Regions from separate parts of the Homo sapiens genome. Here region 2 is linked to region 1. A link means that fine-mapping ties the variant in region 1 to the expression of a gene that starts in the linked region. Tissue or cell type: whole blood. Region 1 holds a variant in brackets; the other region holds the start of a gene. All regions are shown on one strand. Distances are from middle to middle.

What was found. PIP is the estimated chance that this variant, and not a neighbour inherited with it, causes the effect.
Region 2: NFAM1 starts here. The variant in region 1 is fine-mapped to the expression of NFAM1 in whole blood (TOPMed, PIP above 0.99).

The regions. Positions count from the first base shown.
Region 1 is chr22:42,384,590-42,392,688 of GRCh38, reverse strand. It overlaps NFAM1 (NFAT activating protein with ITAM motif 1), which reads left to right. Exons shown (of 6, transcript NM_145912.8): 5 at 5,611-5,700; 6 at 7,469-8,099. The coding sequence ends at 7,528. Among named protein-coding and RNA genes, the nearest start is that of LINC01315, 19 kb to the right of the region's middle. The variant G/A (reference allele first, on the strand shown) is at 4,778.
Region 2 is chr22:42,428,831-42,436,929 of GRCh38, reverse strand. NFAM1 (NFAT activating protein with ITAM motif 1) reads left to right here and starts at 4,527. Exons shown (of 6, transcript NM_145912.8): 1 at 4,527-4,693. The coding sequence starts at 4,573.

The sequences.
Region 1 (8,099 bases):
CTGCTACTTAAACTTTCTGAGTCTTAGTTCCATAATCTGCAAAACAGGGTTAACAGTACAATATTGGTTTACAGCTTGCAAACATGCTGTGATTTCTTCCATCTGAAATTCCTTGAGCCCGCATCCCCCTCCAGCTCCCTGCCGTTTCTCCACAGCACCTTAGAACAGAGTTCCTCCAGCGTTGACAGAGCCCTCTCACCTTCAGCCCCTCTCCCTCTCCTTTCTGTTTCTCTCTACAGGCTTGCAACCCTCCTCTTCGCCAGAACCTTCCTTCTCAGGGTCACCATTGACTCCACATTGTTAAACCAATGGGCAGTTCTCGGTCCTCACCTTCCTTGATGAATCAACGGCATCTGACACCCTTGAGCTCTCCCTCCTCCTCAAACACACTTTCTTCACTTGCTTCCAGAACATTCCACACTCTCCTGATCCTCCCCTGCCTCACCATCACACCTCCTCAGCCCCTTTCACTTGTTCCTCTTCCAGAACCAGTGGAACCCTGAACTGTAAAGATTGGAGTAAATGTTGGAGCCCATCCTGGGACCCTTTTTCTTCTTCATTCCCTTCACTGGGTGATGTCATTTAGCCACAAGGTTCTGAAGACCATCTATATCCTGACAACTCCCAAGTTTATATTTCCAGCCCAGACATCTCCTCTGAACACCAGAGTCAACCCCACTTGAATGTCTAAACAACATCTCTCTCAAACCAAACTCCGATTTTTTTTTTTTTTTTTTTTTTTTGAGACAGAGTCTCGCTCTTGTCACCCAGGCTGGAGTGCAGTGGCGTGATCTCGGCTCACTGCAACCTCCGCCTCCCAGGTTCAAGTGATTCTCTTGCCTCAGCCTCCTGAGTAGCTGGGATTACAGGTGCGCACTACCACACCCGGCTAGTTTTTGTATTTTTAGTAGAGATGGGGTTTCAACATGTTGGCCAGGCTGGTCTCGAACTCCTGACCTCAAATGATCCGCCTGCCTCAGCCTCCCAAAGTGCTAGGATTGCAGATGTGAGCCACTGCGCCCAGCCTCGAACTCCAACTTTTTACCCCTCTGAGTGCCTCTTACCCACGTCTCCTCATCGCTGCTCCATCCTTCCCGTTGCTCAGGCTGGAAATGTTGAAGTTGTTCTCTCCATCTGTGTTTCAATCACTGCCCATATCTGATCTATCAACAAATCTTGCTTCAAAACGTATCCAGAATCCAGCCCTTCTCACTGCCCCAGCGCTAACACTGGTGGGAGCCACTCCCGTTTCTTGCCTGGAGTCCTGCAGTTGGTCTCTAAGCAGCTGGTCTATTTTTATCCTTTCCCCTCCCCATGTCCCCCTACCCCCACCCCCAAGACCCCTGTTCATTTTTCACCTGGCAGTAGCCAATGATCCTGGTAAGCCATCGACAGATCATGGCCCTCTGCTCAGAGCCCTCTGAGACAGAGACACCAAGATGGGGTTAGGTGAGCAAGGGGTTTATTAGAGAAACCCTCTGGGAGAGAAGATGAGGAAGGGGCTGGGGAAGACTGGGAGAGCAGCCCCTCCGCGGAGCAGGTCTGATCCCAAGGGAAGGAAGCCCCTAAACCGTCACACTGCCTAGGGGTGTGAGGAGTGCCCAGGTCAGAGGCATGTGGCCTCCATGCAAATGTGGTAACAGGTTTCAAGGCCCAGCAGCTGGGCGGTTTTGAGCCCTTGGTCAGTTCCGATCCCTTGAAGTGGAGGTCTGTGAAGCAGTTCTTACGACCGCCACGGTCCTGCAGAGGTTCCCCTCTCACCAAGGGTCAAGGTCAGCGCCCTGGGCCTCTGTGCTGGCTATTCCCTCCGCCCCAGGGTGGCCTTCCTGACACTGGCCACGGCTGCTCCCTCTTTTTTTTTTTTTTTTTTTTGAGACGGAGTCTCACTCTGTTGCCCAGGCTTGAGTGCAGTGGCACAATCTTGGCTCACTGCAACCTCTACCTCCCGGGTTCAAGTGATTCTCCTGCCTCAGCCTCCTGAGTATCTGGGACTACAGGCACCCGTCACCACGCCCGGCTAATTTTTGTATTTTTAGTAAAGACGGGGTTTTGCCATGTTGGCTGGGCTGGTCTTGAACTCCTGACCTCAGGTGACCTGCCCTCCTCAGCCTCCCAAAGTGCTGGGATTACAGGGGTGAGCCACCACACCCAGCCCGCTCCCTCATTCTTTCAGCTCTCTACCCTCATGGGACCTTTCAGTGCAGCATTTTCCTGACTTCCCTTTCAAAATTGCCCCCTCTTCCCTTTCCTGTCCCATCCCAACCTCCCTATCTTCCTTCTTTGAGTCTCTCCAGTGCCTTCATGGCTACCTTTTACTGTGATTATTGTCAATCTAGAGCCTCCTGGCACCCAGCACACAGTAAGTGCTCAGGGGTCACCTACTATATGATGGGCAGAAGCCTGTTCTTACCTCCCAGGGTGTCCGGGTTTCCACGGGGCCCAGCACAGGGAAGTGGGGACACTCAGTAGCAAATGTGAGGCGTCAGGATGTGATCTGCGTCCTCATTCAGCAGCAGTACTCAGAACCCCCACCCACCCGGCGGCTCTGTCCCAGCCCAGCCTGGCCCAGCATCCTCGATCTTACTCTCAGCCTCCAGGCCCTCCTGCTCCCGTTCCTGCTCTGAGCTGCTGCCGGAGGGACCTTTCTAACACACGACTCTGATGCATGGTGAGGAAAGCCTTCAGGGGCTCCCCATTTCCACTGCCTGGTCTAGAGCTGAATTGCTTCTCCACGGAGTGTGTTCCTTCCCGAACAACACCCCCAGATCTCACCCATCACCCCCAATGCCCAGGACTCTCAGACTAGGTCCAGGCCCAGGGACACTAACTTCAGCTCTGGCCTCAGCCTGCCTGGAGAAGGCCTCAGCATTGACTTCACACCTCTGCCAGTTGGATGATCACTGGGGTCAGCACCATTGCCCACTGGGCAGCAGGAGGCAAAGGGCCTGGGGGGCCTGGATCCCAGACAAACAGCCGCAGCCCAGCCCAGCCCCCAGCCCAGCCCAGCCCAGCCCCCCAGCCCCCAACACCCAGCCCAGCCACAGCCCAGCACCCTCCCAGACCCCAGCCCCCAACCCCCAGCCCAGCCCAGCCCCAGCCCCACAAGTGGCCCATTCCAAGGCCTGTGCAATCTCCCAGCAGGCATACCTAAGGGAGGGCCAGGAGGGGATGGTTCAGGAGCTCAAAGGGTGTCCTGTTGCCAAGGCTGCACCCTGCATTTCACAGCCTGGTGATGCAGGTCATACCCTGCATATAAATGCACCCAGCGGGTCAGGACTTGTCAAGGCCTCACTCAGCAGCTGCTAATTGGTGGCCACCTCCGCAGCCTCCCCTGTTCTCAGCCCCGCAGCTGCTCCTGCCCTGCCCACTGCACCACCGCCCACTCGCCTATTCCCCGACTCCCCCACTGTATGGGTTGGGGGCCTGCAGCATCCCAGGGCAGGCTAGTCTTCTCTGGCCCTGCATCACCTGCCCTCTCTGGGCTCATGTGTTCTGGGCAGCCCGGCTGAGCTGGACAGGAGGGAGAGGGAACCCCAGATCTACTCCCCTGCCGAGACATGGGCAAGGAGACTGCTCCCCTCCCTTTTCTCTGTGACCAGAATCATCCAGCTCAGAGAGACTGTCAGATCTGTGAGACTTAGAAGGGGTCTGGGCCTGGGTGGGTGGAGGGTTGGGGGCACAGGACCACAGAGGAACATTCCCATCCTGGGTGCCAGACCAGCTGGGGTGGCTGGTGCTCCGGACAGGCACGAAGGCCGCACAAGGCAGGGCAGGACTTGGAAGTTTCCCTCCATTCCAAATGAGGCTTCTTCCTGGGGCAGCCCTGGTCCCTTTCCTACAAGGAAGCAGGTTGGAAGCCCCTCTCCCCAGACCCAGCCTGTTTCTGGCTCAGAGACCCCTTGAACTCGTCCTCAGGGCCGCCCCACCATCCCCATGTCTGATGCCCTTGAAGTGAGGGTCTCCCAAGTGCCAAATGGTTTATTACTTGGATTTTCATGCCCAGCTGCCTCTTGGCGCCTGCCTCCCTCCCTCCTTCCCTCCCGCCTCCCGCCCTCCTCCTGCCTCTGAGCACCACCTGTCTCTCCAGCCTGCCTCAGCAACCCCTGCTTGCCTGTTGCCAGGGAAACCGCCTCCTTGGCAACCAGCCGGCATCCATATGACACGTACACTCAGGAAGGAAAGGCTTCTGCTCTTGCTTAGGCTGTTGGTGGGCTCTGCTCCGGAGTCCAACAGGTTCTGAGGGAGGGTCTGGTCTGTGATCCCAGAGAGGGGAGGTGGGCAGGCCTCATGCTTCTCTTGACCATTCAACAGCAGTTTATTAAGCACCTACTACTTCCCTGACTGTGTGTGTGGCCCTTTGTGCACAGTATCTCATTTAATCATGCATTGAACCTGCAAAATAGATGTGATTATTCCCATTTTACAGACGTGGAAACTGAGGCATGGAGCGGTTAAGGGGTTGCCTTTGGCTGGCGCAGTCAGAGCCGAGATTCGAACCTACTCTTGTCTGACTTTAAAGCCCCGGTTCTTTCTACCATCCTGAGGTCTCTGGCTAGGCCTTTCTTAGCTGGGCCAAGAGTGAGTGGGCCTAGGACACACCCGAGTGACGGGGAAGCCCCCTTACCATAGCTCATTTGGTGCTGCTCCCTTTGTGCCAAGCACAGCTGTAGAATCAGAAACCCAGAGATAGACTAGGCATGGTCCCTGCCCTCAAGGGGTTCCCATCTGGTGAGATGCTGGTGGGAGCAGGACTCCGACATGACCCAGTGCAGGAGCC[G/A]TGAGGCCAGGGACAGGGCCTCCAAGCCCAGCTGAGCTCAATACTGACTCGGGCTTCCTGGGAGGAGGCTTGGGCTATGGGGGGACCGTGGTCAGAGAGTGGGTGGCAGGAGCTTGAGACCTCCAGGGAGGCGCATATGGGTGATGACAGCAGCCCAGGTGGCCCAGGAGGGGTGGCTGAGGGGAATGAAAGGAAAGTGACAGGCAAGGGGGATGAGGGGTGTGCTGAGAACCAGGATTGGACTCTGGAATCCCCCAGCAGGGCACAGGCTCGATGACCAGGGAGTGTGACCCCAGTGGGTGCCTGGGTTATCCTTGAATACAGGCTGGGGTGGGGGTTGGGGAGAGCTAGAGGGTATGGGTGGGTGGGAGGACCCTCACAGGGGCCGGGGCTTTGAACAGGGGGGTGAAGGCAGAGGTCATGGGGGCATCCTATTGGAGCAGTGGCCACAGGTATCATGCAGGGGGCTGCTGGCTGCCAAGCCCTTAAGAGCCTAGGGACAGGCAGGGACAGCAGGAGGAGGCCTGGCCCTTTCTCTTGCCAGCCAGGTGGAAGCCTGGATAGAACCCTCCAGGTGGAATACAAGGCTCTACTGGAGGTCCTTAAGGGAGGTTAGGGAGGTGGCCGAGAACAGAGAGGGGTCAGCCCTTTACAGGCAGGGAAGGGGAAAGGTGACTCTGGGAAAGGGGGTGGCAGGTGCAAAGGTGTGGCTGGGCTTCACCCTCCCCTGGGCTCCCACGGTGGGGTGTGTAACAGGCAGGGGGCTGGCTGCTGGGGCCAGGGACTGCCCCTCTACACACTTGCCCCTGATCCTGGCACCCCGTTTCCTGTAGGCTCTGCAGCGCCGCGAGACCGAGGTCTATGCCTGCATCGAGAATGAGGATGGCAGCTCACCCACCGCCAAGCAGAGCCCCCTCTCCCAGGTACACAGGCGCTGGGGCACCAAGCCTGGCTTCTTGCTCCATCTGACCCTCCCATCACTGGTGAAGTGGGGGGGCAAATGGGACATGGAAGTGAGCCACCTGCTGTGGAATCCCAGCCATCTCCTGGTGGCAGCTGGCCTGCTGGTTAAGAGGACTGGTGCGTTTGAGTTCCTGCTCTGTCCCTTAGCCACTGTGCAGCCCTGGCCGAGGTGTCTGACTTCTCTGTGTCTGAATCTCCTTGTGTGCAGATTGAGCAACCTAACAGTACCCACCTCATAGATGTTCAGTGAGGGTAGAATGTACTGAGAGAGCTGCCTGGGACCCAGCTGTGCCCATGCACTATGAGCCACTGTAACTATCACTGGGCACAGTGTCCACATGGTCAGTCAGACAGGGGTGTTAGGCTTCCAGCTGCCCCCAGGTTGGTGTTGGCTAAAGTCTGGAGCTAGAGTGTGAGCTGGTAGAAGCTGGGCTGGCCTGGTCAGGGTTCTGTGATTGTCATGATAGGGCCTCAGGCATATTACCCAATCATACTTTCTCTCTTTTTTTTTGTTTTTGTTTTGTGTGTGTGTGTGTGTGTGTGTGTGTGTGTTTGTTTGTTTTTGTTTTTGTTTTGAGACAGAGTCTTGCTCCATCACCCAGGCCAGAGTGCAGTGGCGCGATCTCAGCTCACTGCAACCTCCACTTCTCAGGTTCAAGCAATTCTCCTGCCTCAGCCTCCCGAGTAGCTGGGATTACAGGCGCCCGCCCCTGTGCCCAGCTAATTTTTTGTGTTTTTAGTACAGACAGGTTTTCACCATGTTGGCCAGGCTGGTCTCGAACTCCTGACCTCATGATTCACCCACCTCAGCCTCCCAAAGTGCTGGGATTAAAGGTGTGAGGCACCGCGCCCGGCCCATACTTTCTCTCTTAAACCTGTTTGCTCATCTGTAAAGTGGATGAGCAGTGTTTTCCTGCAATACCAACTGCCTCTGAATTCAAATGTGTTCCAAGCTGAATAACATCTGCACCAGAGCTTCCAGCACCGTCAAGCGTGAGGCGTTGTTCAGCCAGAACAGGAGCCCACAGGCCTCTTGGAACATCTGTCAGGGAGTGCGGGCGCCTGGCACTTGGCCTTCTCTGGCTCGGGCTGGCACTATTTGTTAAATCGCCTGTTCTCAAAGCCCTTTCTATACTCAGCCCTCAACTAGACCCTGAGTGAAAGCAGGGACATCTCCGGCAGTGCCCACCCTGTGCCAGGCCCTGGGGTGCTGGACAGGAGAACTAGGCATGTCCCTACCCTCTGGGAGCCATAGTCTGCAGGAATAGGTCGCTGACCCCATGGACACACAGAGGCATTTGTAGCCCTGTTGTGAGGGGTGTTCTTCTGGGAGGGACCAGCCAGGGTGGGGAGGGAGGGAGGGGGTCCCTGGGACCCTATGATGAGCCCGCAGGCAGAGTGAGTAGGGGGCAGTCATGGAACAGGTGTGTCTGTGGGAGGAGGCGCATCCCACACATAGGGCAGAAGGCAGAGGGCAGAGCTGTGGGGGAAGCTCTGAGGCTGGAAGGGCAGGCCCATGTGGCTGGAGGGCAATGGGCAGGGGTGGGGGCAGCATGGTGGGGGAAGAGGCTGGGGAGGTGGGCTTGGAGACAGAGGGCAGGCCCCCCATCAAAGCTACACAGGAAGTGATCTGTTGCCCTCTGGCTAAAACTAAATTAGTGCAAGTTCATTCTTAATGGTCATTCTCTCTCTTTCTCTCCTTCCCTCCCTTTCTTCTTTTCTATCCAGGAGAGACCGCATAGATTCGAAGATGATGGCGAACTTAACCTGGTCTATGAAAATCTCTAGGATGGGCTCCACCGCTCATAGAGCTTGCCCTGGGTCAGAGGACCGGGGCAGCCCCTGCCACCAAAGGACTTGATCTGAGTTGGGAGTAAGGCCCCCAGGGACACCCCATCATTTCACCCTCACATTCAAGGCCCTTCCTGTCTTGGCCGGCCCCACTGCCCCCCCATTCTATGCCCCAACCACCAAGGCTTTCCCATCTTGGGGCCTTTGCCCAGGCTGTTCCTTCTGCCAGGCAGGCCCTTCCTCCCTTGGCCCAACCAGCAAAGCGCCCCTCAGTCTTCAAGGGCTTTCCTGGATGCCACCCTTGCCCAGAGCCCTGCTCACTGCCTCATGCTGACAGAGCAGCATGCTCTCTTGGCACCAGCCTGCACCTCAGCCAGTAGGGCAGCCTCTGAGCTGAGGGAGGACCCTGCAGGGGCGCCTAGCAGTGCTGTGTGGGGAGCCGAGGTATGGAGGAGCTGGGGAGCAGCTATGCAAATCCCTACCTACCCAGCTGGGCCAGAGGCACGAGGCAGCCAGGCAGGGTGGGAGCAGGGGCTGGCGTGGGAGGTCTGGGGGACAGACAAGGATG
Region 2 (8,099 bases), 44 kb before region 1:
AAATATGTCAGCTGAGGCGTATAATATCTGCCCTGATTAAAGGACCAGGTGAATTGCAGGAGAGCGCAGTGGTTAAAGCCAGGTCCCGGGAGCTGGAGCCCTTGTTCCACTGCGTCTTCGCTGTGTGGCCTTGGGCAAGTGGCTTGTGTTCTCTGAACTCCAGTTTCCTCATCTGCGAAGCAGGAGCAGTCATAACACCTCCCATACAAGGTTTCTATGAGGGCTGAAGTACAAGAAAAGCCTTTAGAACTGTGTCTGGCATCAAACAAATGCTTAAGAGCCAAAAATACAAGCAGCTGGAACTGAGAGGGGATTCTGGAGACAAGCCAGGCCAGGCTTCCAGCCCGGGCAGCCTGCGGGCAGATGGCCTCCAGGTGGGTCTGCCTGCCTCTGGTGGGGTCAGCACCACCCAGCTGCAGGGCCACTGCGAGGCACAAGACGGCCCCAGAGGTAAACCCGGCTGCTCCTAGGATGGAGGCTGCCCTTTTTGATAGTGAGGGTGTTTGAGAGAGAGGGTGGATCGGCCCCTGAGTACCCTGGAACCCTTTTTGCCTCAGTGAAGCCAGCTCAGAGGGTCATTCTGAGGGGTCCCTCCTGCTGGTCGGCTCAGCTCCTCTTGGTGCTGGAGTCTTTGGGGAGGAAGGAAGTGATTTTCGCAGCCGCAGCGGGGAGCAGAGGGATCTCCTTCCCACGGCACTTCTGCTTCCTGTGCAGAAAGGAACCATGAAGAGCTCAGGACCTCACTGTGTCCCGGCTGGAGGCCTCTCAGCTGCCACTTGCTGGCTGGGGCATTTGAAAATCCTGGATTGAGGCCGGGTGCGGTGGCTCACGCCTGTAGTCCCAGCACTTCGGGAGGCCAAGGCGGGCAGATCACCTGAGGTCAGGAGTTCGAGACCAGCCTGGCCAACATGGTAAAACCCTATCTCTACTAAAAATACAAAAATTAGCCAGGTGTGGTGGCAGGCGCCTGTAATCCCAACTACTCGGAAGGCTGAGGCGGGAGAATCACTTGAACCCGCAAGGCAGAGATTTCAGTGAGCTGAGATCATGCCACTGCACTCCAGCCTAGTGGAGTCTTTTTTGAGCCTGTCTCAAAAAAAAAAAAAAAAAAAAAGAAGAAGAAAAGGAAATCTTGGAGGTGGTCGTGGGTAGGGGATCTGTTTTTCTCCCTGGACAGGGAGCGCCTTGAGGGCAAAACCATGACTTATGTTTTGTCTGCCCAATGCCTGGCACGCAGTAGGCACATAATAAGTGTTTGTGGAACTAAACTGAAAACAGAGACCAGCTGGGCAAAGTGGCTCACACCTATAATCGCAGCACTTTGGGAGGCTGAGGTGGGCGGATCACCTGAGGTTGGGAGTTCGAGACCAGCCTGACCAACATGAAGAAATGCCATCTCTACTAAAAATACAAAATTAGCCGGGCGTGGTGGCACATGCCTGTAATCCCAGCTACTCGGGAGGCTGAGGCAGGAGAATCACTTGAACCCGGGAGGCAGAGTTTACGGTGAGCCGAGATCGCGCCATTGCACTCCAGCCTGGGCAACAAGAGAAAAATTCTGTCTCAAAAAAAAAAAAAAAAGAAAGAAAAGAAAAAGAAAACAGAGGCCAGTAATTGTGGTCTCATTTGGAAAGCCTTAGTCTTGGTGTCGAGGAGGCCCCTGGGGACTGCAGGGGACACCTGGGCTCCCCCATTTCCCCACCCAGCTTCCACCTCCTTCAGGGCTGCCACTCAGAAATTACTTTAACCTCCCTGTTCCTCAGTTTCCTCATCTGTACAATGGAGGTGATTAGAGTGCCTGCCCCATAGGGCTGCAGTGAGGATTAAACTGGCAAGGAGAGCAGGTCCCCTGGAGCAGTGTCAGGCGCTTGGAAGCTTCCCGGAACTGCTCTATTATTGCTTCACTCTGCTGAGGTTGCCGTGCCCCTAGGCTTCCCAGGGAGGCTAGGCTCTTTCACTTCTACAGCCTCCGTGAGGCCAGGGCCCAGGGCAGGGCAGGTGTTCAGTATACTGTGAGGCATAGATGCACGGATAAACGGGGAATGGACGGAGGTCTGGGCAAAAGCCAGTGGCTGAGACGTGTGGTCCCCAGGGACCTCACCTGCAAATTCAGCTGCCAAGGCCTAGCTCGAAGGCTGTGCCACTGAAGCTGCCCCTGGGACACCCACAGAGCCTCCTCATTCCTCTGCTCCGCCTTCAGCCTTTGGGGCCTTTACTGTTTATTCACAGCTCTGGCTGAGGGCACAGGAGAGGAAGCACATGAGAGGTGCTAGAAAGTTTTGGTAGAAATGAGGCTCCTGGATGCGCTGCGGTTTTATTTCTATCCCCCTGGCTCCCGAGGAGGATCAGGGCCAGACACGAGGCCCCGACAGCGCAGCCAGGGCTGCTGGGCTCCTTGCCAAGGTGCGTCCCTGCCTCTCCCCAGGAGGCTGCGTGGCTGCAGAGCGTCTCAGAAACTGGGCAATGAGCTGGGACCCTCAGCTGCTTCTTGTCCAGTCATGTCTGCGCTCCACAGCCCAGGGCCTGCCTGGGGAGTATGCACGCCTCCTCCCACCCTGCCTCCCAGAGGCTACCCCTTCCCTTGAGGCCTCTTGTGCACCAGCGTGGTGTTGGGCACCTGCCTTCATATCAAGCCTGGAGGAAGGCTTCTCCCTGCCTTATGCTCACCCATCCGTCCATTCCTGCACCCCCTGGGCCAGGCTCAAGAAGGAGAGGGGAGGAAGACAGGCAGCTCAGGCAGGCAAGCGTGGAAACCAGGTGTGCAGCAGGCTAGACCCAGACTCAGAGGCGGCAGAACTCCCGGGAGTCCGAGGTACAGAGTTGGGGTGTGGGGGGCACCGTGACAGGCTGAGAGGTAGGGTCAGTGAGCTGGCACAGGGGCAGGAGCGGAGGCGGCACCAGGGCTGGAAGAGCAGGCTCCCTTGTTCCGAGGCAGTTTGGCATTCAGCTGCCTCCCAGTGCCAAGTCGTAATGAGACTTGTAGAGGCACAGACCGATGCTTTTCCAATGCTCCCCGTGTACCCTGAGGCATTGACACGAGGTCTATCACCATGGCATCAAGGTGCTTAGACAACCTGCTACTCCCAGGAGCCAGGAATAGCGTGAAGCAGCGGGTCTGCATCTCACTGTGACATATGTGAGCATGTATCACTGTGATGGATCAACAGTCAATAACACTGGGGTCCCCGCCTGCCCCCTGCGCGGTAGGAAACTTCTCCTGTTCATATGTCTTCCTCCCCTGGTGGGCGGCCCCTGCTCTTGCCAGCCTCCCAGTGCTCGTGGCATTGGTGGAAACGTCTTTAGGCTTTCACTGTTCATGTTTGGAGCAGCCCAGGGAAAAGCATGTGTGCAAAGAACTGAAATGGATCTCATGATGCCGTCACCGGGGGCTGCAGCTGGACACACCTGAGCAGGCAGTAGCAGGGTGGGAGAAGGCTCGGACATCATACCACTGGCAGTTCAAATGCCCGCCCCACAGACCTGCCCTGATCCTAGGCATGTTGTTTTGCCTCCTGGGGCCGAGGTCTTCTCTTTTGTACAACTGGGATCATCACATTTATCTGGTGAGTGAAGGGACACCTGCAGAGAAGGGAGGTAAGCGCTCAGCATGCGCTGAAACTCAGCCACCTTCCCGCCTGCGTCTTCCATGTACCAGGTGCCTCCAGCTCCACCAGCCATCACCACACCCCAGCCCCTTTCCTCTGCCACTCCAGACACGCAGGCAGATGTGTGGGTGCCAAGGGTGAGGGGCTCCCAGTCTGCTGGGGAAGGGGGTCCCGGCAGCAAACAATTCCTGTCCCCGGCTGATGCTGCTAGAAGTGAGAGCAGGGGCTGTGACCTGCAGCCAATGGGGAAGCAGTTCGAGGGTCTCACAGTTGGGAGGCCGAGTGAGCTAAGCTTTAGGGCAGCCACAGGGAGGAGCTGACGTTAGAGATGGACCAGAGAGGAGGCGTCTCCTGGGCCTCTGCAGGGGACCCACAGAGGTTCTCGCTGGGTGAATGATGGGCAGCCTGCCTTTCACCTGCCCTGGGTGTTTGGCCCTCTCTAGGGCTGGGAACATGAGGCTCCTGCCCTTCACCCCAGCCTCCCTACCACCCCTCACCAAAAAACCTACCTTTGGTAAACACATTATTAAGGGATTCTCAGAATATTTTAGAGAAGTTTGTGTGAACATGCTTGTGGTCGTTTTAAAAGTGTTTCAGAAGTGAGAGGCTAAACCAAGGCCCGAAGTCACTCATGGAAATCCCATGATCCCTCTGCACAGTTACCAGTGTCTCCTGGACGGGGCCCCTGCTGGAAAGGGGCCGAGACAGGGTGAAGCCCACCAGGGGTTGGAGTGGGGAGGCTTGGGTCCCGTCTCCAGCTCTTCTTCTGGTTGTGTGGCCTGGACCAGTCTCAGTGCCAGGTTCCTCATCTGGCGGCCACCCTGCTGGGCTGTTCCAGCTTTGCTTCTGAGCGGAAGGTCAGGGGCTGCCAGGGAGGAGCTTCGTGGGGAAAGCAAAGGGGAAGCTGTCAGCGCCGGCCGTCCCCTCCTGTGAACTAAAGAGTCGCCGCAGACAAGCAGGCCCCCAGATGGAGAACCAGCCTGTGAGGTGGCGGGCCCTGCCAGGCCTCCCACGCCCTCCTGGGCTCCCCGCAGCCCCCTGGCTCCTCCTTGGCGTGCTGCTGCTGCCCGGGACCCTGCGACTGGCAGGTAGTGTCTGTCTTCCTCCTTCTCTCTACTCTCTCGCTCCAGAACATCAGAGCGGCTTTCATCCCGCCCGGCGCAGCTAATTCCCAGGGACCTGTCTCTGGGGATTTGCTGGTTGTCGTTTGAACGCTGCAGACTTCACAGGGGAAGCCTTCTGGGACCGAGAAGATGTTTAGCTAATGCCTTGCCAAGGTGGCTTTTGAAGGGGAGGGGGACAGCGCTCTCTCCCTCGCTGCTGTGACAGCTTTGCCCCAGCAGTCTGGCCTCCTGGCCCTTAAACAAGGAGGGTGGGCGCTGTGTGGCTGGGGCCAGGGGCGGGGCAGGGGGGAGGGACAGCTCCCCATCCGAGGAACCTCACGTGGCTGCTGCGGGGGACACTGCGTTGAACCTGGCAAGTGGTGGGGCTACCCTCTGGGTTGTTGCTGGCATTGGCCAGGGAGAGCGGGGAGAGGGGGGAGGGGGGGATACCAGGGCCAGCCACAGGGCTCTGCGCCCAGAGGCACAAAACTGTCAGTCACCAGAAAGGGTCTCACCTCCCAGTTCCTGAAACACAACCAGAGGCCAAGTGTTTTAGGATGCAAGTGTGTCTTTCCACGCCAGCGGCGCTCCTTTCCTGGTTCCAGGCTTTCTTGGAAGCTGGGTGGCCGGGATCCGAGCCAAGCTGTGGGGTAGGTAGCCTCAGGGCCAGTTCATCAGGCCAGGGACGGCCCAGGAGGGTCCCATTCCAGGGCTGCCAGCACGAGGGCTCAGTGAATTCTGCCAGATTCTCTCTGCCCCTCCTTGGCCGGGCAGCAGCCAACCCTCCCTCTGGCCAAAGGGGTGGCCTCCACTGTGGAGACAGGGTGCCTTCCTTTCTATTCTCTTAGTTTATGGGGCTTTCAAGAGCTGCCCCCACCCTGTCCTGCTGCACCCCCTCTCATGACCACAAATTAGGCTTTATGGAGCCCTTAGCAGGGCACGTACTGGCCACCCTCACAGCACCCCTTGGGGCTCCTATTGTCCTCACCTGCACCATTTTAAGGACAGGGAAAAGGAGGCCCAGGGAAGCCAGTTCGTTTGCTCAAGACCTAGCCGGTAAGTAGAGGCCAGCCTCAGCCCCAGGCCAGCCTCAGCCCCAAGCTGGGCCCCTCGGCCAGTAGGCTCAGAGGATCCTCTTACTTGTAAAGAATGTTCTTCACCGGAAACTTACCCTGGGGAGGCAAAGGCTGACCTGTGTGTACCTCCCCAGGCTGCAGCCCAGAGCCCTAGGACACCATCTCCTTTAATCCTGTGCACGCCTCGCCCCACACCCCAGACAGTTGGTGCAAACACGGCCAGACCCCGGAAATGCAGCCTGTTAGTGTCAATGTGTCTCAACTACAGTCATTTTTAATTTAATTTCCCCCCAATTCCCATCCTTTCCCTTTGTGTGGTTCCTCCTCCCCAAAAGACACCCAGCACACCCTGGTAACCGAGCAGTAAGAGGTTTTATGGGGTGCTACTGGGGAAAAGCTCTTTTGTAACAGTCTCAACTATAACAAAACATTCCCAGTGCCACCCCCTCCCACCCGGTATTGCAACAAACATTACATAAAAGAGAAACTGTTCTTTCACAAGAGGTGAAAACACCCTTACGGTGTCCTAGAGTCCCTTGGAGCAGCAGACAAACCCCCACCCATGATTTTTTTTTTTTTTTTTTTTTTTGAGAGTTTCACTCTTGTCACTCAGGCTGAAGTGCAATGGCGCCATCTTGGTTCACGGCAACCTCTGCCTCCTGGGTTCAAGTGATTCTCCTGCCTCAGCCTCACGAGTAGCTGGCACTACAGGTGCCCACCACCATGCCCAGCTAATTTTTGTATTTTTAGTAGAGACAGAGTTTTGCCATGTTGGCCAGGCTGGTCTTGAACTCCTGACCGCAGGTGATCTGCCCGCCTCAGCCTCCCAAAGTGCTGGGATTACAGGCGTGAGCCACTGTGCCCGTCCTGTTTTTATTTTTTTGAGACAGGGTCTCGCTCCGTCCACCAGGCTGGAGTGCAGTGGTGCAATCTCAGCTCACTACAACCTCTGCCTCCCTCACTCAAATGATCCTCCCACCTCAGCCTCCCGAATAACTGGAACCACAGCGTGTGCCACCACACCCAGCTATTTTTTAAATTTTTTCGTAGAGATAGAGACTCACAGTGTTGCCCAGGCTGGTCTCGAACTCCTGACCTCAGGTGATCCACCCGCCTTGGCCTCCCAAAGTGCTGGGATTACAGGCGTGAGCCACTGTGCCCAACCCCCAACCCGCTCTTTGTCCTACCCCTGTGCATCCCCCTTCATCTATCTGTCACTCCATGTCACACCCCTGCCTTCTCGTCTCAGAGCTTTGAGGGTTTGCTGGAAGGAATCTTGCCCCTCCCACATCTTCCAAACCTCCCCTGACCGTAACCATCAGCCTTAACCATCAGCCTGGTGCAACCAGCTCTGCCACCTGTCAGTACCAACCCAGCTTGCATCCCTCAGCTGTGTCCACAGGGGTGTCACTGAAGGCCAGCGTCCCTGATTCTGCATCGTATCCCTGAACTTGCGAGAGGATGCTGGCTTAGGAGTACAGGCCAGGGGCATTCATCTTCAGTTTGATTTTTTATTTATTTATTTATTTTGAGACGGAGTCTCGCTCTGTTGCCCAGGCTGGAGTGCAGTGGCACCATCTCGGCTTACTGCAACCTCCGCCTCCCAGGTTCAAGCGATTCTCCTGCCTCAGCCTCCTGAGTAGCTGGGATTGCAGGCACCCACCACCATGCCTGGCTAATTTCTGTATTTTTAGTAGAGTCAGGTTTTCACCGTGTTGGCCAGGCTGGTCTCGAACTCCTGACCTCAGGTGATCCCCCCACCTTGGCCTCCCAAAGTGCTGGGATTACAGGCGTGAGCCACCGCACCCGGCCCAGTTTGAATTTGAGCTCTGCTACTTGCCCAGGCACCCTGGGCAGATTACTTCTATCGCTATGCCTCAATTGTCTCCTCTGTTAAATGGATGTGATAACACTGCCTGCCTAAACACATCCTGAGGACTGAGTGCCCAGTATGTCATTAGTCCTCAGTGAGTGTCAGCCACCTGCCAGCCTCGCCAGAGCCATGGAAACTTGAGGTGCAGTTGGTGAGCCCACGGCCTCCAGCTCATCCTGGGTACCTGCTCCTGCTCCCAGCCATCCTCCTCCTCCCACTTGAGCCGGGACTTGGGCCTGTCCTCTGGCTTCTTGACCCCTCTGCAAAGCCTGCTTTTCTCAAAGGCAGCCACTGGTGGTCTCCCCAAGACAGGAATTGCTGGGGGCTTGGCTTTTCCAGGAGCAGCTGCAACTCAGCTTCCATGGGCCTCAGTCCTCCCCAAGGACTTTGGGGCTGGACAGACCTGAGTTCCAGGCCTGCCTTCTTCTGGTGACAGCTGTGT